Linked DNA regions of Homo sapiens. The protein of the gene in region 1 purifies or fractionates together with the protein of each later gene. This does not show direct contact. Each region holds a gene or a part of one and is shown in the gene's direction. Other genes may lie near its edges.

The links.
Region 2: the proteins of TMEM185A (region 1) and TSPAN6 purify together in Homo sapiens (affinity purification with mass spectrometry; 3 studies listed by BioGRID and IntAct, with this or other methods). This does not show direct contact.
Region 3: the proteins of TMEM185A (region 1) and GAP43 purify together in Homo sapiens (affinity purification with mass spectrometry; 3 studies listed by BioGRID and IntAct, with this or other methods). This does not show direct contact.

What each region holds. Positions count from the first base shown.
Region 1 is NC_000023.11:149,628,611-149,637,221, reverse strand, and holds the start of TMEM185A (transmembrane protein 185A), read left to right. Parts: upstream 1-5,429; 5' UTR 5,430-5,641; coding exon 5,642-5,679; intron 5,680-8,611.
Region 2 is NC_000023.11:100,626,345-100,634,316, reverse strand, and holds the end of TSPAN6 (tetraspanin-6), read left to right. Parts: intron 1-287; coding exon 288-386; intron 387-777; coding exon 778-912; intron 913-1,748; coding exon 1,749-1,832; intron 1,833-3,450; coding exon 3,451-3,519; 3' UTR 3,520-3,558; intron 3,559-4,330; coding exon of another isoform or gene 4,331-4,339; 3' UTR 4,340-7,209; downstream 7,210-7,972.
Region 3 is NC_000003.12:115,675,000-115,682,971, forward strand, and holds part of GAP43 (neuromodulin), read left to right. Parts: intron 1-1,013; coding exon 1,014-1,611; intron 1,612-7,972. UniProt on the Homo sapiens protein: This protein is associated with nerve growth. It is a major component of the motile 'growth cones' that form the tips of elongating axons. Plays a role in axonal and dendritic filopodia induction.

The sequences.
Region 1 (8,611 bases):
CCCCATGATTCAATTAACTCTCACTAGGTCCCTCCCATGACAGGTGGGGATATGGGGAACTACAATTCAAGATGAGATTTGGGTGGGGACACAGCCAAACCAAAACATAGCACAACTTCGGAGCATTGGTGTAAGATTGCGCTAGTTTCCTGGGACTGCCATACCGAAGTGTTATACCACAAAGTGTGCGGTATAAAACAGTACCAATTAATTCTCTCTCAGTTCTGGAGGTTCAGTGCCTAATATCAAGGTGTTGGCAGGGTTGTGCTCCCTCTGAAGGCTCTAGGCGAAGATCTTTCCTTGCCTATTCCAGCTTCTGGTAGCCCCAGGTGTTCCTTGGCTTGTGGCAGCATCACTCCAGTCTCTGCCTTCAGTTTCACATGGCTGTCTTCTCTCTGGGTCTGTGTTTCATTTTCTCTTTTCTTACAAGGACATTAGTCATATTGGATTAAGGGCTCACTCCAATGACCTCATTTTAACTTTATTACAGCTGCAAAGTCCCTATTACCAGTGAGGTCACCTTCACAGGTATTGGGGATTAGGACTTCAGCATATTGAAGGGTATATTTTGGAGGGTACAATTCAACTCATAACGACGATTATAAGATGGCCCAAAGTAGGCCTTCTTATGATGAATAAAAAGGAGCAATTACTGCTGAACATCTAAGATGCACCTTCTCCTGTACATGGTAATATTTCTGAAAGAGTACAGATCTTAAGATGCATAAGTACATTGATTCATGCAGGGTTTTACCCTTGAAAATCTGTTATTAAATAGATGGTTCATCTCACATCTTAGAACTGTACAAGCATGGTATAAGTTGTTTTATAATAAGACACAAAAAACCTCAACATGTCAATGATTTGTAGGAAAGTGGGAGTGTGGGTACCCACATAATGTCTGCAGCTATTAGAAACTTGGAAAGAAAGGGTCATTTTTCCTGCAGACACAAGTTGCCTGGTTTGAGGCAAGGGATGAGGAAGAACTGCTTTTTTGTTTGTGCCCTGTGACTGTCCAACATCAGCATTCATTTCATGACCATTGCCTGAGCACCTACTGCATGCCAGGATCCAAGAATACAGGGGCATAGTGGGAAGCATCATGGGACTCCAAAACTGACTCCTCCAAGCACAGAGAGCTGAGAGCACACGCACAGCTGCCTGTAGGCAGAGTGGGGTGGTGGGAAGGGAAGGGAGGATGGTTGCAGACAATATTGTTCTCCAAAATGGTGCACCTGCCTCCATTCACTGACTTCTGTGTTTTTACAACTGTTGTTTACTCTGCCTGGAACCTCATTTCCTCTCTTCCTACCTTACAATGTTATTTTTTCAGCTCAGCGGTTCCCTCATCCCCAATGCTTATCGTGCACAATGCTGTGTTTTCATTATTCATATCTGTGTGTTCCCAGTGCCTTCCACAGTGCCCGGCACAAAGCAGACACTCTGGAAGACATATGTCAGATGAATGCAACTAAAGGAGTGAAGGTTACAGGCTACCCAAGATGAAAGGATCCATTAGGGGAAGGCAAGATGAGGAAGAGCACATTTGATTAGTTAGGGCAGAGGGCCCCAGAGGAATGTGTCAGAAATACAGTGTGGAAACAGAAAGGGAGAAAGACAAGCATTGAGTGGAGATTCAGGAATGAGAGCAGGTTGGGAACAAGGAGAAAAAGGAATCATGTGGGCAGCTGGTTGGTGACCTTTGGCAAGCATGGGCCTTTTTGTCTGCCCCGTGTGCTTGGCCACACACACTTGACCTGGGCTTTGCATACACAGCACACTGGAGGAGTGTGGCACAGCCGGGAAGGCTTCCTGGAAACCCTGGCATCAGGAGAGGTCCAGAGGAGAAGCACAGGGATACCGTGGTGGTTTGCTGGCCCAGGCAAAGGCTCCCCATTCTGCCTTCCAACAGGAAATGGCCCCTGCTTCCTTTAGCAGAAAGCTTGCTCCATGAGGGATGATAAACCACCCACTCCCAGGGCTACCCTGGGTGACAGGAGGTCCACTGGGGCCTTGGGACTGTCCTCCCTCCCTCTTCTCTCTCAGTAACTGTAATTTGCCTACCTGAGGGAAGACTCCCTGAGGAGGTGGCTCCTTCTGGGCTCTGGAAGGCCATAGGGGTTGCTGCAAGTCCAAGCAGAACTACAGCTACTACCTCTGTGGTCCCTTCAGTTGCCTCCCTGCAATCTCCTCCTCCAGTTCTCCAAGCCCCTAAATCTAGCCCCGTATTTAATCAAATCCCTGTCTAGACTCCAGACCCACCCACCTCCCAGGGAGATCTCAGATGTGTATCCAAGTTAGGCTAAAGTTGCCTGAAACAAAGGGTTCTGTCAGGAAGCAGGAGATTGCATTCTGCAGGTGGACTAATTCCCAGCATCTTCAGCAATTCTCTAATTGGTGGCATTCAAAGTGTGGACTTTAGGGAACCTAGGGTGAGGAATTCCAGGCTAAGAAAGCCTTGCAGGCTGGCACCTCCATGTTTCCTGGCTAAAGAACTTGTCAATCTGACCTCCGAGAAGCTCTTTATAGTCCCATAGGCCTTGCACGGGACTGGATCCCAGCTGGCCCTCCCTCCACTGGAGCAAGGGTGAAACTGGTGTTGAGTTCAAATCTACTAATTCCACACTCTCTCCATTCTACTGCTGCAGCCAGGGAAGGAGCCTTGGTGGTGTGTGGAGGGCGGTTCCACGGCCATTTTCTTCCCCTATGCCAGGTCTCCCCAGTCCAAGTGTCTAAATTCACCAGGATTCTCTTCACCAGTGCCTTGCTCTTCAGAGGAGAGGCATCCTATATCACCACATTGAAGCCAATGTGAATATTGAATTGGACAAGCCACCAGCTTATCAGAAGGGTGGTACAAATCCAAGTTAGTCCTTAAAACCATGGTCAGATATACACTGATTCTTCTGGAACACTGTAACCTAAGCCCACCCCAAAGTCACCAAGAATATGCTGTCTGGCTTATTTGGGGGTCATACTTTTTCAATCCAGAGCCATTTCTTTCCTTTGAGTGAAGAATGTTGGGAGCCCCTAGCAAGATAGCCCTGGAATTTTTTGGCAAGTCAAGGAAAAGATAAAGTCAAACTCTGCTAGTGGAGAAGATGTGGGTGTCATCTTCTCCACTAGTCATACTTAGCCTTGATGTATCACCTTTCTTCTGAGAATGTAGAAACATTTAATAAGTGGTAATTAAGCTTCCCAGCACTCCTGGTGCCTGCATATGACCCAGGGTCTTTCTTTAATGTCAGGATCACTTGTGGGTCTGTCTACACAGGTCATTGAGGCTTTGGACCTCCATCTAGGGTGGGACACTGAGTGAGGGCTCTGAAGTGAGCAGCAGGTTGTCAGTAGGGTCTTTTGCACTTGCTGGAGAGAGGACCAGATGGCCATCTGGTTTCTGGCTTTTTTTTCCCCATGAGAGCACCAGTAGCATAAAGGGTTGGGCTTCCAGAATCAGTCCAGGTAATCCACCTCTTGAAGACTGGGGATGTGAAGCCTTGGGAAAGTCCAGTTCTTCCTGTATTTCCTCACAGACAGGTTCATATGTTCCTCTTGGCAATTTACCTTGTCAGAGCAAAAGAACACACTGACAAGTAATTTGTGCATCAGTGTCCTGTTGCCTTTGCTAGATAGCTTCCAGGGCCTGGTCAACTCTGGAAGAACTGCTAAAATTGAACTTGTGGGCCTGCAGAGCAGTGGTTCAGCTCCCAGACTCCCTGGGATCTCATTAAAGTAGCGTCTGCCCTCAAGATTCTGGACTCTGAGGAGCCTGCCTGGTCTCTATCTATGAAGCTCTTGAAAGGGCAGTGATGCCTGTTATTCAAGTGTCTGAACTGGCAGACCATCTTCTCATGCCTGCTTGGGGCACGGTCACTGGTAATGAAGATGGTGCTGTCCAATCTGACCACTGGCAAGCACCTCTTTCTAACAGTATGGGCTGCAGGTTCAGCTAGACCCTGAGTTTCATCTGTGCTCCTTCACCCTTACTTGCTGGCTCGCTCAGGGCCTGTTATACAAGCTTCTCTGCGCCTTAATTCCTCGTCTGTATTTGAGTGTTCATTGAGAACCTCCTCTGGGCTACACATTGGACTTTACCCAGAGGATGGGAAAGGAAGATGGGTGAAAAAGTCTGGGACAGGGTCCTGGTGCTTCAGCAGATGAAAACTTGATTTGGATTACTCAACCTTAAAATCAGCTCATATAATAATATCCATTTCCCAGTGGGTGTTGGGAAGCTTAATTACCACTTATGATATGTTTTTACGTTCTCAGAAGAAAGGTGATACATCAAGACTAAGTATGACTATCGCAATTGTGATTCTCTCAAGCTGCCCTTGGGGCTAAACAGTATAAAATTGTCATTTGTGAAACTCTGCTATTGCAACAAAGGATGACTATTATCCATAATGATAGTAGACTAATGTTTAAGGCATTGTTGTGCTCATGAAAACTTAAATCTGCCCAAAGTGAAGATGGTAAACTAGGTCACCTGCTATGAGCTTGTCCTGCTCTTGGATTCCAAAAGCAAACAAAATCCTTGAGGAGGTTGACACCTGAAAGAGTACCAGATAGCAACAGCATTCTTTGTACACCTAGCATGTACCAGGCAGTGTGTTATGCACACGATCTCACTGAATCTTCCTAACACGCTTAGAAAAGAGGTTTTTATCATTTCCATTCTGCGGAGGAGAAAAACTGAGACTCAAAGATGTTGACTTGCCCAAGGAAGATGAACCTGGTACTTGTAAGTAGGGCAGCCTGGAGTGGAGGCAGAGGTCAGGTGTGAAGTGACCACAAAGTTTAGACAGGATCCAAGGAGGCTCTGAACTGGGTTAGAAAAATGAGGATGATTTCCACGTCTCCTGCTTGAATACCCCCCTGCGTACGAATAGGCCTGCTGCTAAGGGAAAAAGGGAACCCAGGAGGGGAAGGCGGTTGGCACGGGAAGTGACTTTGGTGCTAGGTAACTTGAGTAGGGAATAGCCAGCATATCTGGACACGCTGGCTTGGGAATTGGAAGGGAAGTTGGGACCCAAACTTTGGAGTCGTTGACAGATGTGACAGGTGAAGCCTGGGATGACATCGCCAAAAATGCAACGTCTCACTCATTGTCACTACTCCCAGGGCTCAGTCGTCACTGGGGAAAATCTCCAGAAGGTAGCGCGGGCCAAGGTGACAGGTGTCTGCCAAGATCTGCCCGCCAGACTCCCGGGCGGCGCGCTCCCTCCCTGCAGGCCTTCAGCCCGTCAGCATCCCCTTCCTCGGGGCCCTGCTCACTCCCAGCCTCCATCCCCCTGCCATCTCCTCCGCCGGTCGCGTGCGGACACAAGGATGGGGACCTCCCAGCGAGGAGCGCTCTGGGCGGGGCTCCGGACGCATGCGCGGCCCTCGTACGGAAGCCCGGAAGGAGGGGCAGGGGGCGGTGGCTCAGGTTTCTCCGGGCGGCGGCGGCGGCGGCGGCGGCGGCGGCGGCGGCGGCGGCGGCGACGGCGACGGCGACGGCAGCGGGGACGGCAGCAGTAGCGGGAGCAGCAGCGTGGACGCGGCTGGCGCTGGCGCCATGAACCCGCTGTAAGGCGCAGGCTGTGCAGCACGGGGTGCGGGGGAGGAGGAGGAGGACGCCGCGGTGAAGTTCTCCGCCATGAACCTGAGGGGCCTCTTCCAGGACTTCAACCCGAGGTGAGGCGGCGTCGTTGGCGCCCCCGGGAGTCCGCGCTGCGGGCTCGGGCGCGGGCTGGTGTTCGGCTCCGGGGAGGCACGGCGGGCGAGATGCTGCAGCCCGAGGACCCGGGCGCCTGCCCGAGCCTCCCTGCGGGTGCAAGCGGTCCCCAGGCAAAACAGTCGGCCTCGGCGCCCGCCCGCTTCCTCCTCCCGTGCCCGGTGCTTTCAGCCCCTGCCCGGCCACGGCCGGAAGGGCCCGGCCGCGAGCCCCGTCCTGCCCCAAGGGAACCCCATTCTTTTCTGCTTGCTGTCCCTCATTGGTGTCCCAACTTCTTCGTCTCGGTTCCATCCTCTTCTGCGCCGCTGCGGGCCCTCCATTCTCCGCGTCAGGGCCGTCTCACTCGACCCAACACCCCTACCCCCACCCCAGCTGTTTCCTCCAGTTCCTCGCAGTCCTTGGGGTTTTCCTTGGGTTTATGCCCATCCCTCTCTTGTTTGCTTCTTTGTTGAACGGATACCTGAAACACTGTTGAATCCTTGGAGTCAGTGTCGGGGTATGGCAATACCTTATATAATGCATTTCTGGGTGAGCCTGATCATTTTCCATACTCATTTTCTCATCAGTCTTCACTACAAGTTTATTTGCAGGAAGTAGATATTGCTGTCCTTCTTTTCCAGATGGGGAACACCCAGTGGACAGTGTGGAGAAAACACTGGCTAAGCACTCAAGCGCCTGTCCTTGCACTTGCCCGACTGTTTTGTAACTGTTCTTTACCCCAGGCTGTGAGCTCCCTGAAGCTGAGACCATCTCCTGCTCATCTCAGTGTCCCCAGCGCCTCCCACCCACCGTATCTGGCACATAGTAGGCACATATAAAATGTTTGTGGAACTAAACTGAGCCCAAAGACTTGGATTGGAGACGAGGCCATATGTAACTGGGTGATTCTCTGCCCTTCTTTGGCCCTTCTGTAAAATGAGGAGTTGGCCTAACTGATCTCTTAAATGCACTACTCTCCGAAAGGAGTATCCGTTTCCCTTATTTGCCAGTTGGGAAGACGTGCTCAGTAAATATTTGTGTGCTGTAACCTATGTTAGGTGCTTTAGATGCTGGCGGTCTCAGCATGGGGTGAAGAAGGGCTTGTACACTTAAGATGCCTTACAGTACTGTGCAGTGCTGTACTGCGGGGGCCAACTCTGGGGACCTATGCCTTGGCTGCTTGTTGAGGATGAAAGGAAGTTTTAGGGGAGTATTTGTATGTTGAGGGTGCAGTCTCCCTAGGGATGGTGACATTTTAACTTGTGAGTCATTGTGACTTTGTATGTGCTCTTATTCCACTTTGAGTTCATGTTCTGGTTAGGAGTGCCAGTGTCTCTAACACGGTGCAGACATTATCATTGTTGGCTTCGAAGGCATAGAGGAGGTAACAGAACTAACTGCAGTCCCTTCCTCTGCTGCATCAGGGGGTTAAGATTGGTCTGCAGGGTAGTAGGGTTGGTGCTGTGGCTGGACAAGCCCTGTATGTCTTCTATTTGGAGATGGTGATAAGAAAGTTAAGTAAAAACTGAATTGTTTTGTGCCCTTGGGCAACTCACTTATCTATTGTTTTATCTGTAGAATGAGTATAATCTCTCAGTGGGGTAGGGAGGCCAATTAAGGATTGATTACAAAGTGCCTTACAAATAGAAAGCTACAGTGACTTGTTTGCAAGGTGACAGAGAATTCAGAAGCCTCAAGAAACTGCCTTAAGTGATCAAACAGGCTAACGGAGTTGCCAAAGCAAAATAGTGCTGCACTGATACTACCTTTAACCGTTTTTTCCTTTAGCCCTTTTCCCCCCAAAAAAATTAGTATATGAAATTACAGTGAAATACCTGGTATCTAAGCAGATTTATAGTAATTCTCAACATATTCATCAATCTCTTAATTCTACCTGCATTAAAATGTATTTCTACCTGAAAAGTTTAAAGGTCTTTTATACTGTGCCATTTTCCTGATTCATTGTTGCCAGAGGTAGTGAGTTCCTTAATTTTACAGATATTTCAAGAGGACATTGGCCAGGTATTATTGGTAAATCAGATTTGTTTTTTTAGCTGGTAGTGTTTCACCTCTCCTGAGCACTCCTAGTTTTTGACAGTGTGCTTTAGTCTCCTTCCATGCTGAGGAAGGCCTTCTCTATAGGAGAAAGAAAACTGAGGGGTGTACACAGGAAGTTACCTTATGCTGGGGACTCAAACCTTGATGCTACTGCTTTGCTCCCTGCCTCTATTTTTGAACCAATTCAACATCTCCCTCCTACCCCAGGACCTTGTCACACACTGTTCTCTTTACCAGGAATGTTTCCCTCTCTTTTCCTCTCCTCCAGACCTAGTGAACTCCTATTTATCCTCACTTGGCACTTGCTAAGGGAAGCATTCCTGACTTCCCTGACCAGATTTACTGCTCCCTGTTTCTACAGTTCCTGTAGTATTTACTACTCCTCCATCATAGTGCATATTTGTACCCTTGTGTCTGTCTGGATGCTTATTTGATTAATACCTGCCTCCCCCACTAAACTTTAAGCTCCATGGGGTCAAGGCCGTGACTGTGTCAGTATCGTAGCCTGCATACTTGGAATAGTACCTGGCTCAATAAATATTTGTGGAGTAAATAACTGAATAACTCTCCAGAGCCTATAAGATAAATCTAGAGCTGCTGCTTTCAATCACTGCTTTCCTGGTGGTCTGTGGCCTGGTTCTCTTTCTTCTCACACTCTTCCCACCTTCAGAGTGCAGCCATTGCTTTGGAGAGATGGGAGAGAACATGGCACTAAGGCAGAATATGGCTATATTTACTTTGAAGAGCATGTCTTTGTCATAGAAATAGTCACTGTCATGGTTTGGTGGGTCCCAAGGCATGGGTCATGGCTCCAGATCCCCTTTCCAGCCTTTTGGATCTTGGTAAGTCTGAACC
Region 2 (7,972 bases), about 49 Mb from region 1:
GCAGGGTGCAGAATACAGCAATACTGCATTGCCACTCAGATAAATACATATTCCCACAGCACTTTGAACTTGTAGTGGTTCTCATCATATATTTTAATGTTTTGCTTAGTAGTCCCCTCAGCTAACCTATACCCCTTAGAGGACAGGACTGTACCATGGAAGTTAATTACTATACATGTTGCTGCTGTCAAAGATATGACCATTGGTCAGATTCGAGAACTTATTTGACCTGAAACCAAAAACTTTCTAGAGGATTTTCTTACTGACATTGTGTTTCTTTGCTATAGATTAAGAACAGCTTTAAGAATAATTATGAGAAGGCTTTGAAGCAGTATAACTCTACAGGAGATTATAGAAGCCATGCAGTAGACAAGATCCAAAATACGGTAAGTGGTAACCACCACCTAGAGGGGAACACATTCCCTGTTGCCTCAGAGAAAAGAGCAGAGTCTGGCTACTAGATGTTATCCACCTGTAGGGGAAAGAAGTGTGACGTGTTTCATTTTCCTCACATGTGCACCTGTTCTCTTCCTTCCCCACTTACATCATAGTCCAGGTACAGTTAGTACCAACTATAGCAGGAAAGTAAGGCCAATACAAAACTGTCATGCATGGTGCTAATCAGGGACCCAGTGCTCATCTCTTGAATCAATTGAGGAGAGAGATCATTGAGATTAGTAAATGTTTTGAGCACAAATTGCAATAGAGGATATTAGGTTAAATGTTTGACTACAAAGTTGTAATATAAACTGTAAATGCTTTTGTTGGGTTTTTCAGTTGCATTGTTGTGGTGTCACCGATTATAGAGATTGGACAGATACTAATTATTACTCAGAAAAAGGATTTCCTAAGAGTTGCTGTAAACTTGAAGATTGTACTCCACAGAGAGATGCAGACAAAGTAAACAATGAAGTAAGGTGCCTTTTAAAATTTTCTATTTGGCAATATTTGAAGACTTAACTGAATGCAAAATTGACCCAGTTTTTAATTTTTTTTTTGAGATAGAGTCTTGCTCTGTCGCCCAGGCTGGAGTGCAGTGGCGCGTTCTCGGCTCACTGCAAGCTCCGCCTTCCAGGTTCACGCCATTCTCCTGCCTCAGCCTCTCGAGTAGCTGGAACTACAGGTGCCCACCACCACGCCTGGCTAATTTTTTGTATTTTTTAGTAGAGACGGGGTTTCACTGTGTTAGCCAGGATGGTCTCAATCTCCTGACCTTGTGATCCACCTGACTTGGCCTCCCAAAGTGCTGGGATTACAGGCGTGAGCCACTGCACCTGGCCAGTTTTTAATTTTTAAATATAAGCTGAAATAGATAGGGCGGGTAAGAATTGAGTTCAGACGGCCAGCAAGTAACACTTTTTTGTTTATTTATTATTTAGTATTTTTTTTTAAAGACAGTGTCTCTCTCTGTCACCCAGTCTGAAGTACAGTGTTGTGATCATAGCTCACTGGAGCCTTGAACTCCTGGGTTCAAGTGAAGTAACACTTTTAAATATATAATCCAGAAGGTGGAAATAATTGGGAATAATTATTTGTTCTGTTGAGAACATATGGAAGAGAATAGATTTCAATAAAATGACAATCAAAGGCTATGATACATACATCTTTCTGCAGAGGTATATGATCAAAGTATTTATTACCATAAATATATCTTTCTGCAGAGTTATATGATCGAAGTATTTATTACCATAAAGAAAAGCACAGGCTGCTTGTGCTGTATTTAATCTTTGTTTTTTTCCTCCCATTAGGGTTGTTTTATAAAGGTGATGACCATTATAGAGTCAGAAATGGGAGTCGTTGCAGGAATTTCCTTTGGAGTTGCTTGCTTCCAAGTAAGTTTTTGTAGTTACTTAGGAAATATTTCATCCCTCTTGTAGGTGTAAGCTAGAAGATTTTCACTTTTTTTTTTTTGAGATGGAGTCTTGCTCGGTTGCCAGGCTGGAATGCAGTGGCGTCATCTCAGCTCCCTGCAACCTCCACTTCCTGGGTTCAAGCGATTCTCCCACCTCAGCCTCCTGAGTAGCTAGAATTACAGGTGTGCGCCACCATGCCTGGCTAATTTTTTTGTATTTTTAGTAGAGTTGGGGTTTCACCATGTTGGCCAGGCTGATCTTGAACACCTGACCTCAAGTGATCCGCCCTCCTCGGCCTCCCAAAGTGCTGGGATTACAGGCGTGAGCCACTGCATGCAGCGAGATTTTCACTTTTAAGGCTTATAAGTTTTTGCTTCAGGGGACTGGATAGTGAGGACATTTTTAGGGAAGTCGCATTTTCACAAAACTCTCAGTTACTGGTCACAGTATAAAAATACTTTATTTAGGAGAAATACCTAATGTAGATGATGGGTTGATGGGTGCAGCAAACCACCATGGCACGTGTATACCTATGTAACCTGCACGTTCTGCACATGTATCCCAGAACTTAAAGTATAATTAAAAAAAAGAAGAAAAAAAGTAAGATTTAGAATTAACTTGTAGCAGTGCATATCTTTTGAAAGCAGTTAACTGTGGAAAGACTCAGTGCCCTCTTAGTTATGGCAACTTTCCAGTATCATAGCTCATGAAACAAAACATTAGATAGGAACCTTGGTTCTCTCTGCGGTCAGTCAAGATTCTAAAATGTTATTAGGATCTTTTCTGGGCTGCAACTGCCTGATGAGTTGTATACAAGTTCCAACCTATTAAAATTTAGATGATGCCACCCCCACATTCCTTATGCACCAGTTGTTTGGGGTTGATTCCACGTTGTAGATCAAATTGTGTTTCCCAAGTTGTGTTTCCCACTGTAGCATGAAGTTTGTTTTGTGGCTCTGAACGTTTTTTTTTATATTAAACACTAGAAATAAGACTAATTCAAGTTTCGTCTTAATATATTTTTAAAGTAGTAAGCAAAGCTATATCTAAATCTATGCTAATGCAGTAGCCACTAGCCACCTTTGAATTGTTATAAATTATTAAATAAAATTAAAACCTCAGTTTGCTGGAGATTTGAAATACTTAGTAGCCATGTGGCTGCTGCCTACTATATCGGACAGTACAGGGATTCTAGAACATTTTCATTATTGTAGCATTGCTGTGGATCTTTCCAGGGAAATCTCTGCCCTCGTTGATGGAGATTTCACTTGTTAAGATACTTATTGAAAACCATGTATTTGTTTTTTCTGGGAAATGAGAGTAAGAAAAGTTTCTTCAAAACTCGTGACTGAATTTTCCTTGAGTGAGTTTGCTGGATTTTCCTTTGGTGAGAGTTGTGAAATTCTGGGTCACAGTGGCAATAAAACTTCACTTAGATTCTTTGAATGTGATCTAGATGCTGCAGAGTATTAAACATAACTCTAGAAAAACTCAAGGACGAAAATTATAAGCGAATTACAAGTGAGAGGAGAATATAGTCTGAGGTGTTCAAGTTCTTTTGTGTATGTATTTAATTTTGTTCCTATTTTATTTCTAGCTGATTGGAATCTTTCTCGCCTACTGCCTCTCTCGTGCCATAACAAATAACCAGTATGAGATAGTGTAACCCAATGTATCTGTGGGCCTATTCCTCTCTACCTTTAAGGTGCGTTCATTTTGGTCCTCAGCTCTGTTAGTGTTGATATTTATTCTAGCCTGTGTATGTGATGCATGGACTAAGTTTGCCAAGAACGTCTTGTCTAGTAATATATTTAAATCTAGCTGGTGCTATGTAAACCCTGTGTAGGCAGGTTAGGTCTCTATACACAGGGCATGGTCAGAAAGTAATGACTTAGCTACAGCTTATCTATGCATGCTCTCTACAGTTATGCAACAGAAGACTCCCCGTGTGGGTTTATATATTTACATACACATGTCAGCCTAAAGATCATAAGTGGTCCCTTTTTTAACATGTTTTGGCCTGGAGAGAGGAGAAACAAAGAATCCCAAGAATGACCTTATTCGTGAGGTTCCCTGGCAGGTGCACTCTGCTCCTCACCAATATTGACATTTTCCTTAGTCCTTTTCGTAGTTTTCATTTACCACAATCTTAATCAGTTGTTGAGAGTGTGGCTTTCTTGGTAAAAAGATGTTTTTGGTGGGCTTTTGTTAAAACCGTAAACTCATCTGGTCTAATAAGGAACCAGATTTTGGGAAGACATGTGTTTCAATGGCGTTAGTATTTGACTGGTAAAATACTGTGAGAACTGTTGTTGGCTGAATTGATCCCTAGGGCACACTTTGCATTTTACTTGAGCCACTGACTAGGAACACATAGGAAGGTCTTCATTAGCAGGAATAGATTAGAATGTATGTAAGCAAATACAGATGTTGAAATTTGGGTAACAAGTACATTAACTTTTTTTCTTTAATTTTAGGACATTTAGGGTCCCCCCTGTGAATTAGAAAGTTGCTTGGCTGGAGAACTGACAACACTACTTACTGATAGACCAAAAAACTACACCAGTAGGTTGATTCAATCAAGATGTATGTAGACCTAAAACTACACCAATAGGCTGATTCAATCAAGATCCGTGCTCGCAGTGGGCTGATTCAATCAAGATGTATGTTTGCTATGTTCTAAGTCCACCTTCTATCCCATTCATGTTAGATCGTTGAAACCCTGTATCCCTCTGAAACACTGGAAGAGCTAGTAAATTGTAAATGAAGTAATACTGTGTTCCTCTTGACTGTTATTTTTCTTAGTAGGGGGCCTTTGGAAGGCACTGTGAATTTGCTATTTTGATGTAGTGTTACAAGATGGAAAATTGATTCCTCTGACTTTGCTATTGATGTAGTGTGATAGAAAATTCACCCCTCTGAACTGGCTCCTTCCCAGTCAAGGTTATCTGGTTTGATTGTATAATTTGCACCAAGAAGTTAAAATGTTTTATGACTCTCTGTTCTGCTGACAGGCAGAGAGTCACATTGTGTAATTTAATTTCAGTCAGTCAATAGATGGCATCCCTCATCAGGGTTGCCAGATGGTGATAACAGTGTAAGGCCTTGGGTCTAAGGCATCCACGACTGGAAGGGACTACTGATGTTCTGTGATACATCAGGTTTCAGCACACAACTTACATTTCTTTGCCTCCAAATTGAGGCATTTATTATGATGTTCATACTTTCCCTCTTGTTTGAAAGTTTCTAATTATTAAATGGTGTCGGAATTGTTGTATTTTCCTTAGGAATTCAGTGGAACTTATCTTCATTAAATTTAGCTGGTACCAGGTTGATATGACTTGTCAATATTATGGTCAACTTTAAGTCTTAGTTTTCGTTTGTGCCTTTGATTAATAAGTATAACTCTTATACAATAAATACTGCTTTCCTCTAAAAAGATCGTGTTTAAATTAACTTGTAGAAAATCTGCTGGAATGGTTGTTGTTTTCCACTGAGAAAGCTAAGCCCTACATTTCTATTCAGAGTACTGTTTTTAGATGTGAAATATAAGCCTGCGGCCTTAACTCTGTATTAAAAAAAATGTTTTTGTTTAAAAAAAACTGTTCCCATAGGTGCAGCAAACCACCATGGCACATGTATACCTATGTAACAAACCTGCACATTCTGCACATGTATCCCAGAACTTAATGTAAACAAAAAAATCTTAAAGTGCAAATATTAAAAAAAACTGTTCTCTGTGAAAAAAATTATATTCCATGTTATAAAGTAGCATATGACTAGTGTTCTCCTAGAGATCAGACTTTTTTGATTGTATAGTTTGCATTAAAAAGTTGTACAGGGAGGGATGTAACCTGTATCTTCAGGATAATAGGGAAATTAATAAGGAAAATAATAATTACTAAAATTTGAGTTGAAGTCAGGGAATTATTTCTTTGGTTTTGAGTCTCTTTATACATCCATTAGTAGAACCTGTCTAGTCTGATTGCCACAGTCCTTGAATTGATGGTAAGGGGGAGTCAGTTACAGTTAGAAAAAAACCTGGGCAAAAACTACTAGTTAAATGATCATGAATTTTGAGTATGTGTTTTAAAATGCTTGGAGTTATTGCAGAAAAATGATATTCTCCATTAGAACATTTGATGTGTGACTTTTGACATAGGATAAGGTGATAAGAAAATTAAGTTGAAAAATAGTGACTCAAGTACAGCAAATCAGATTTTTGGCTACTGAGATTAAAGAAGCAAATATTTAAAGGATTATCAGCAATTTTCAAATACATATTTTTCACTGCAGTGGTTTTGAAGAATGTTTTAAGGTTATATTTAGAGTTTTTAAAAAAGTTTTCCCTCAGCCAGCCATGGTGGCTCACATCTGTAATCCCAGCACTTTGAGAGGCTGAGGCGGGCGGATCACCTGAGGTCAGGAGTTCTAGACCAGCCTGGCCAACATGGTAAAACACCGTCTCTAATAAAAATGCAAAAATTAGCTGGGTGTGGTGGCAAGCACCTGTAATCCCAGCTACTTGGGAGACTGAGGCAGGAGAATCACTTGAATCCAGGAGTCAGAGGTTGCAGTGAGCCGAGATCACACCACTGCACTCCAGCCTGGGCGATAAGAGTGAACCTGCATCTCAGAAAAAAAAAAAAAGTTTTCCCTCATTATTAAAAAGGAAAAATTATAGAAAATTAAAATATAGAATGTAGAAAGAGGAAAAACACCACACATCACTCGTCAGGTGGATTGGTTTGTTTATTTTTAAGATGGGTTTATTTTGGATAGCCAGTTAGAAAACGCCCTTATAGCTGATGTGTGCTTGTGCATACTGAATTGTATACTTAATTCTGAAAGTAATGAGGAAACATTTCACCTAATGATAACTGGTACAAAGGAAAGTTCACGTGTCTTTAATAGTTTGCTAATTAGACTAGCTGGTTAGAAAGAGGGATCACTAGATTGGAGAGAGAGATCCAGTTTCCACTGGAGGCAGTAGGTCTGCTCATTTCCATGGTGACAATCCTAATGGCAGAGGGAGTGAGTTTCCCTTAGTGGCACAGGCTGGGGGTTTTGAGCTTTTAAGTTTTGTTTTATAGAAATCTGGAGAATTTTACATTTTACTTCACTATATATCTATGTTTAAAATAATTCATTTTTGATGTCCCAAAATTGATGTGGGTTGCCTTATTTCCAGGCACCAGGTTGCTCACTGCAAGGTGACATTTTGAGAAGCAGAAATCTCTAGGTATATCTTAAGTGTGAAAAGCTTGTTAGATTTCCATGGCCTATTCCAGGTGGGTTGTTGGGTTTATGTTGTAAGCATCAAACTTTTGTGGAAATAAATACCTAATACAAGGTATAAATACCATTTCTGGTTTTCCTCAGAGCTCACAAAAGAATCTTTGAGACTTGATGTTTTCAACCTCCTGTCAGAATCCAAGTTGGTGATGCACCCAAACAAACCTGTTAAAATATGAGACACAGAGCCGGGCGCGGTGGCTCACACCTGTAATCCCAGCACTTTGGGAGGCTGAGGCAGGTGGATCACGAGGTCAGGAGATCGAGACCATCCTGGCTAATACGGTGAAACCCCGTCTCTACTAAAAATACAAAAAAATTAGCCAGGTATGGTGGCGGGCGCCTGTAGTCCCAGCTACTCAGGAGGCTGAGGCAGGAGAATGGCGTGAACCCGGGAGGCGGAGTTTGCAGTGAGCCGAGATCGCGCCACTGCACTCCCGCCTGGGTGACAGAGCAAGACTCCGTCTCAAAAAAATAAAATAAAATAAAATAAAAAAGAGACACAAAGCAATATATGCATTTTCTCATGAAACAGTAAACTTTGGTTCCTTTGGACTATTCTGTGAGGGTTTTTGTTTGTGTTTGCAGGGAAAAAAATTAACCTAAGATATTAATGCCATTTCTACTTTTCCTCACAGCATATATAAGATAATTTGAGATTTGATTTTTTTTTAAGTTTGCTACTTTTCTAGGTTGAAACTTTGTGATGCGGCAAACCAAACCTTACTAATTTAAAAAGGAAAACAAAAGGCTAATGTGTCAGAAATGAATATATAAACTGAAACAGCTATAGGGAAATAAGACTTTCATTTTTAAGTCATCGC
Region 3 (7,972 bases), on another chromosome or scaffold:
TAAACCCTCTATCTTTCAGAGCTCTTTAATAAAAACCTGGGGTGAATGTGATTTATTTTTTGCTTTTGTTTCTGGTTTGCTTGCTTTTTTGAGACAGGGTCTCAATCTGTTACCAAGGCTGAAGTGCAGTGACACAACAACAGCTCACTGCAGCCTCGACCTCGCAGGCTCAAGTAAGCCTCCTTCCTCAGCCTCCTGAGTAGCCAGGACCACTGGTGCATGCCACTACACCCATCTAATTTTAAAATTTTCTGTAGAGATGGGGTCTCACTATGTTGCCAGGGATGGTCTCGAACTCCTATGCTCAAGTGCCTCCTGCCTTCACTTCTCAAGGTGCTTGAATTACAAGTGTGAACCACTGCACCCAGCTTGTAAATGTGATTTGAGTTGTCAAAGTACTTCTAAAAAAAAGGCTGGTTTAAGTTTGACATGGAGCAACATTGAGCCGGGGAAAGAAAATACGTAGAAAATAATGCCAGTGGCCAGATGCGGTGGCTCACGCCTGTAATTCCAGCACTTTGGGAGGTGGAGGTGGGCGGATCACTGAGGTCAGGAGTTTGAGACCAGCCTGAACAACATGATGAAACCCCGTCTCTACAAAATACAAAACTTAGTCGAGTGTAGTGGCACATGCCTGTAATCCCAGCTATTTGGGAGGTCAAGGCAGGAGAATTGCTTGAACCTGGGAGGCGGAGGTTGCCGTGAGCTGAGACCACGCCATTGTACTCCAGCCTGGGTGACAGACTGAGACTCTATCTCAAAAAAAAAAAAAAAAAAAAAAAAAAAAAATGGCCAGTGATTCTGGAAGGTCCGAAAGACATTACTTTTCCCATACAATACTGTGGGAGAAAGATGAGGTTTGATTTGAACTTCCAGGGTACTGTTGAATTCTTAACTCCAAAAACAGTGCCTGGCACAAAATAAATCACTTAATAAATACTTGTTGAATGCTGAGATTTAAAGGAGAAGAATGTCATTGAAGCCCTCTCTTTTCCCTTCTTTTCTCGACAAAGGTTGAAAAAAATGATGACGACCAAAAGATTGAACAAGATGGTATCAAACCAGAAGATAAAGCTCATAAGGCCGCAACCAAAATTCAGGCTAGCTTCCGTGGACACATAACAAGGAAAAAGCTCAAAGGAGAGAAGAAGGATGATGTCCAAGCTGCTGAGGCTGAAGCTAATAAGAAGGATGAAGCCCCTGTTGCCGATGGGGTGGAGAAGAAGGGAGAAGGCACCACTACTGCCGAAGCAGCCCCAGCCACTGGCTCCAAGCCTGATGAGCCCGGCAAAGCAGGAGAAACTCCTTCCGAGGAGAAGAAGGGGGAGGGTGATGCTGCCACAGAGCAGGCAGCCCCCCAGGCTCCTGCATCCTCAGAGGAGAAGGCCGGCTCAGCTGAGACAGAAAGTGCCACTAAAGCTTCCACTGATAACTCGCCGTCCTCCAAGGCTGAAGATGCCCCAGCCAAGGAGGAGCCTAAACAAGCCGATGTGCCTGCTGCTGTCACTGCTGCTGCTGCCACCACCCCTGCCGCAGAGGATGCTGCTGCCAAGGCAACAGCCCAGCCTCCAACGGAGACTGGGGAGAGCAGCCAAGCTGAAGAGAACATAGGTGAGCAACCGCGAGGGTCAGATGCAATGGGTGGATGGGGAAGGGAGTTGCTATTCGGAAGACCAGGCCACCTGGGTCATTGAGGGAGAGGAAAAAGTCTAGAAGATGTTTTCCAGAAATCAAGGGAAGCTGTGCTTAATTTCCCAAAGTGGCAGGACTAAGAGCTAAGGTTACATTCCCAAATATCTCCAGAGAGGACTACCAGAGAGGACTCAGGCAGGTCTATGTAGCAGCCAGTACTAGAAAGATCTGGCAATTACCTTAATTGGATTGATATATGCAGTCAAACTAGATAAATCTGCTTTAAAAAAGTATTCTGTGTGCTGATAGACTTAGTTTAATAAGTAATTACTGAGGCTACATATATTTTATGGATGGGAATTAGCTAATGTGATTATTTGGCTCTAGAAAATGCCTGGTATAAATACAGCCATCCTCTTCTTGATCCAGATTATATAGTGTGTGAATTGTTGGCAGCAAAAGTATAATCTCAGACCACCCTTCCCTATCTCACATTATGTTTCTGGGCATTCTCTCCACCATCGGTTGGTGAGTAGTGTGTGTATATGTGGGTATGCTCAGAGAATGTTAATTGTAACATTAATTGGGGTCAAACATAATTAGGAAAATAAGTCTGTCGATGTTGCCAAAAACAAAAGAAAAACCCCAAATACAGAATATGTTGTGAAGTCAAACATAAATAATCATTTTATTATTGAAGACACGACTTTCTACAATATGCATAAATAATTGAGGGTTCCTATGATTACAAAAAGGTACTGGATTCTCTTCATTTTGGAGCTGTAACTTGAAAGTTGGAGGGTTTTCACTATTACTGCTCAATTGTGCAGAATTGGAATAGAATATTCCCAGAGCAAGATAAATTCAACAGAGTTTCGTCCCTGGAGACTAGATCCTTCCCTCACCCCAACACATCCACAGTGGTAAAGGAGGCCAACAGTTTCCATGATCTTTCTCTAGTCTAATATGACCGATAAATACTTTCCAGCCCCAAAGATCCTCAAAGATAAAGTTTCTTCTGTGTCCATTTAAAAGATTGGGTTTACTCCTTTAGAAGCGCCTCGGTTTAACCAATGATGTTTGTCATCCAAGGGTCCAAATACGGACTGAACCACCGTGTGCTCCTTGGGAGAAAACCTACTCCATGAGAGTGGTCTGAGGAATGTTTTGGCATCTGACCATCAGATTGAGAAAGTAATGACTGGACTTTTACCTTGATATACATTTCCCCAAAATCAGATACTACAATATGGTAGGTGACTATTCTAGATATTTTAGGTCTACTTCTTTCATCGTATCCCTAAAATTCTATGAATATGATGCCAGATTATATTAATTAACATTGTTATTGGCATATTCCAGCTCTGGATAAATCGTATGCTTCTTTTCATTTTGAATCTTTATTCTAACACACAACTGTCCCAGGGGCCAGACATTGAGGTTTAGAAGATGGGAATTTTTCCCTGGAAAAGGTAAGGCATGTGATAAAAAGTGGGGTGTGGGTTTTAATTTACTCAGCAAAGCAAAACTTAACTACTTTTCTTTAGATTTAAGGTTTGAGCCTCAGGTATGATGTCTGGAAATCACTTTGCATATCCACAAGTTACTTAATGTGTCATTTTCATACATCTTAGAAATTAATCATGCTTTTAAATACAGAACATATCTGACATGGCACAGACCATATTTTTTAACTGGGATTTCTAAAGTTGTGGGAAACAGAGAAATGATGTGATTTTAGGTATATGCTTATGATTTGGGTTGATAGAAGGATTTTTTGAATCAGTAGGAAGTCTAATATATAATATATTTTAAAAGAAATTAAGTTTTATTATGTTTCAGGTTATGATAACTAACTGCAAATGAATTAATGAAATATTTTATGTAGTAAGTTGTCAACAAATGTCAAATATTGAATATAAATTGATGAAATTTAAATTATAGATAATAATTTGTTCACTCATTTATATATTTCTCTTGCATATTTGCTTATTCTATTCATTTATTTGATTAAAAATGTGTCTGGTCAGTGAAAGCAAACAGCACTCTTCTCTGCCTTAAATGTTACAGATTCTGACAGAAAAATATCTTAATTAATCAGACTTTATCATGGGCATTCAAAGGTGATTGAAACAATAGGTGAAGTTCAACTTGAAGGTAATCACAAAGGGCAATTTACAGTGTTTCTTAGAGTTGGGTAGGTACTGTCCTCTTGGTTAGATTCAGAAATGCTGCCTGTCGTTTCTTTCTGGGTTGAGGTATCTAGTAGCCTTGCCTGCTCTTATGTGACAAGCACAAATTACTCCGCTGTGATGAATCTCATGGGATCACAGAAGGTAGAGGTGACAAGGAGATCTATCACATCATATCAGGTCCAAATTCCCAGGTGCCCTGTACTGCATTTCCTCTGCCTTCCACTGTATTTCATTTTAACCTGGGTTAAAGTAGCAGCATCTTCCACTGGGCTGTACTGTTCGGAAATGGGTGGCTACCATGGGTTGCTTTAGGATTCTACAGCTGCCTGGAGGGGCGTGGACAGACAATCTAAGAGGGTGCAACAGGGTTAAGGGGAAAAATAGGTACAAAGAGAAAATCTAAGAAAATAATTTCTGTGAATATCAGGCTTAAAAATTTTAGATATGATTATTACTTTAATACCTATGGAAATGTTGGGGGAACTATAAATGTTATTTATTTTACTTCTTTTACTATTTACTACCAACCTGTTTGTTATGGGGGGATGTCATTTGTATTTTGATCTTTGAAGTTGGTTGGTTATTGTCATTGTTTTAAATTCTCCAAGTATGTCCACCTCTCCCTAGTTTGCCACGCTGCCTGCCCAGCTTTTTACGTGCCTGGGACCAAAACATTTCAGCGCACCTCTGACAATGATTCCTTTAGAGGAAGAGGAGTGTTCAAAACATCTGTGGGACACTGCCCCATTCAGTCATGAGTAGAGAACTTTGAAGCCCCCTTTAGTGATTATATCCTTGGGGTCTCCTGCTGAGCAGTGTCACTGTGCTCATTGGCTCTCAATGAAGGAATTCTCTCTTACGTCTCCTCTTCTCCATGGTAGCCTATTGATTTTCCCCAGTAGAGGACTCTGCTGTGGTCATATTCAGTGATGTGGTACAACCAAGGTAACCTATCCAGAGGGCTATCAATCAGTGATATTGATTGGGTGGCTGCCACAGGGTCTTTGACTGATGCTAGTTGGAAGTGTAGCTCTGAGTGACTTTAAATGTTCTGTATGTTGATCTTGGCTGCATTTTATTTTCATGGTCTCAGTACATCTTGCAAATTGATGCCATCAGTAATGATCAAGAAAAGAGGGAGGAGTTTCCTATTGCCATTCCCTGAATAGAAAAATTAACTTAGTGTCTCCCTGCTTCTCTTCCTCCTCTTTTTTATCCTTCCTTCCTCCCTCCTTCCTTCCCATTCTGTCTCCTTCTTTTCTATTCTTCCTTTCTTTTTCCCTTCCCTTTATATTAACTTTCTTCTGTGCTAGGTATTGGAGTCACAAAGATGAATAAGATATGATTTTTTGTCCAGGTGCGGTGGCTCATGCCTGTAATCCCAGCACTTTGGGAGACCGAGGCAGGAGGACTTGAGTCCAGGAGTTTGAGACCAGCCTGGGCAACAGAAGGAGACCCCATCTCTACAAATAATAAATAATTAGCAGAGTGTGGTGGTGTGTGCCTGAGGTCCCAGCCACTCTGGAGGTTGAGGCAGGAAGATCACCTGAGCCCGGGAGGTCAAGGCTGCAGTGAGCCATTATTGTGTGCCATTGTACTCCAGCCTGGGTGACAGAGTGAGACCCTGTCTCAGAAAAAGTAAACCAAACCAAAACAAAAACAAGATGTACTCTTTTGACCTTAATGAATTCTTACTTGGTATGGGGGTAGTATGAAATTCAGGGAATGACATTGAAAACAATCATATTCATAATCTCAATTAAATTCTGCAGTTAGGTACAGGGCACTTCCCTATGCCAATGCACTTTGGACAAAATATGAATGAGGCAGTGCTTCAGGGGCTAAGATGCAGTCTGCTGCTTACTATAAAAACGTTGCATATAATGTATGTCCTGATACTCAAATTATTAACGAAAAGAATAGATGCAAAATTTAGAATTTCTAGAATGATAATTGTGTATAAGAAAATGAAATACCCAGCTCATATTTCTGAATTTAAAAAATTATTTATGTTTCCCAGAACAATATTTTCCCTAAGACCCAAGGTAACCATCTATTTTTCAGCTTTCCAAAAGATAGGTCCACTTCTACCAAGCTGTGTGTTAGATGTGAGATTTTCCAAGGATATTTACACTTATTTGGCAGGGTGCCTCGTGAGCGGCTTTGATTTGAAATGTGGTTTCAACCACTTCCTAAATTTATACACAACTCACAAAGAATGAAAATTTTGGTTGTGGAAGTCCATAAATGCTGTTTATAAAACATGGGCACCCTGTCAGATACTCAGTGGTATACCTCTTAAATACTGTTGATTATTAAGCTTTTATGGAGCACTTTTATATTGCTAGAGTAATCATTTTTATTGGCTTTTCTTGACAACAGCCCAATGTCATTTGATAATATTTTTCTTTCTATTTTTATATTCCAAGAATAGGGACAAAGTAAATGGATATTCTGGCCACAAATACAGCCAGTGACAAAATGAGGATCAAACTGATTGAACTCTAAATCCTCACCTTAACTGTAGCCCTACAGTTCTTTCTCTCTATTAAGGTGTTATGTTTTGTCTCAGTTTCTGCATTTTCTTTTTTATCTTAGCTGTTGTTGTGATCTGATGCTTTTGGGAAATACCAACCAGGACCTTACTAGGATATTCTCTGTCCTACCTGCCTTGTAATATAATGCAGGGAAAAGATCTTTGAACTGAAATAAAGAGACCAGGGTTCTAGTCTCAGTATTTCTACCAACCAGATTTTAGGCAAGTTATTGCTTCTCTGGACCTCATTCATCTCATCCTTAGGAAAAGGGACTACGATAGTTGGTTTTTAAGGTTTTCTTTCAAGAGTTAACATATAAAAGTCTAATAATAGGTAGCACTTAATGAGCATTTATTAACTGCCAGGTCCTGTGCTGAGTGCTATGTGGGGATTGTTCCATTTAATCATCATAACCACTCTGTGGTAGTAATGTAGTAGTGTAATTTTCCCTTCCCTTTTTACAAGGAGAAATCTTAGCTTTAGGGAGACTATGGGACTTAATCATTGTTGACAGCTAGCAATGTTGAACCAGAAGCCAAACCCTGAGAGTCTGAGAGGTCACATGCTGAACCCTGACACTTATCCAAGTGCTATTCTGGAAGAAACAAAGAGGAGAGGAATGTCTAAGGACCCCAACAATGTGTTATAATATAAGAACATCTCTCTTCTTTGGATAATTGGATATTCCAGACTCTTGTCTGGGAATTATTAGGGATAGCATTTACAGATGGGTGTCTAGTAACTACTATAATTCCTGATCATAATTCCCTCACAGCCCTATCACCCCAGAATTATTAGGGATATTAAACTGTTTCTGAGTCTTAGATTCTTATTTCAAAAATGCTCCAAGTACTGTTTTATTAGACCTGAGAGAGCTATAAAGATCAGCTGAAAATGATTGTTCTTAACAGATGTATTACTGACTCCATCAAATACATCAGTTATGCCAGGAGGATCTGAAAACTAGAAATGGAAATTTTCATATCTCAATCAGATGAAAGTCATTTTATTTATTGTAGGCAATTGCTACCCTAAGTTTAGCTTATCAGAATCAGTATCTTTTTTATATTCTTGCTTAGGTCTACCCCCCTTTGGCAAGTGCATTTCCAAAGGATCTGGTACCTTTATAACTAAAATATTAAAGAACTTAATAGAAGAGACAAATTAAAGAGCAATCATTAACTCTTTTTTGAGACAGAGTCTCGCTCTGTTGCTCAGGCTGGAGTACAGTGGCATGATCTCAGCTCACTGTAACCTCTGACTCCTGGGTTCTAGTGATTCTCCTGCCTCAACCTCCCTAGTGGCTGGGATTACAGGCACCTGCCACCATGCCTGGCTAATTTTTGTATTTTTAGTAAAGACGGGATTTTACCATGTTGGTCAGGCTGGTCTCAAACTCCTGACCTCAGGTGATCCGCCTGCTTCAGCCTCGCTGGGATTACAGGTGTGAGCCACTGCGCCTGGCCCTTTTATTAACTCTTTAGTTAAAAAAGTAAGCAGACAAAAGACAAGATGAAGGAATGTGTTGTGGAGTCACATGACTCATATTGTTGAGGCCATTCATTCATTCTTTCATAGCTTTTATTAAATTGTTACTGTCACCTCATA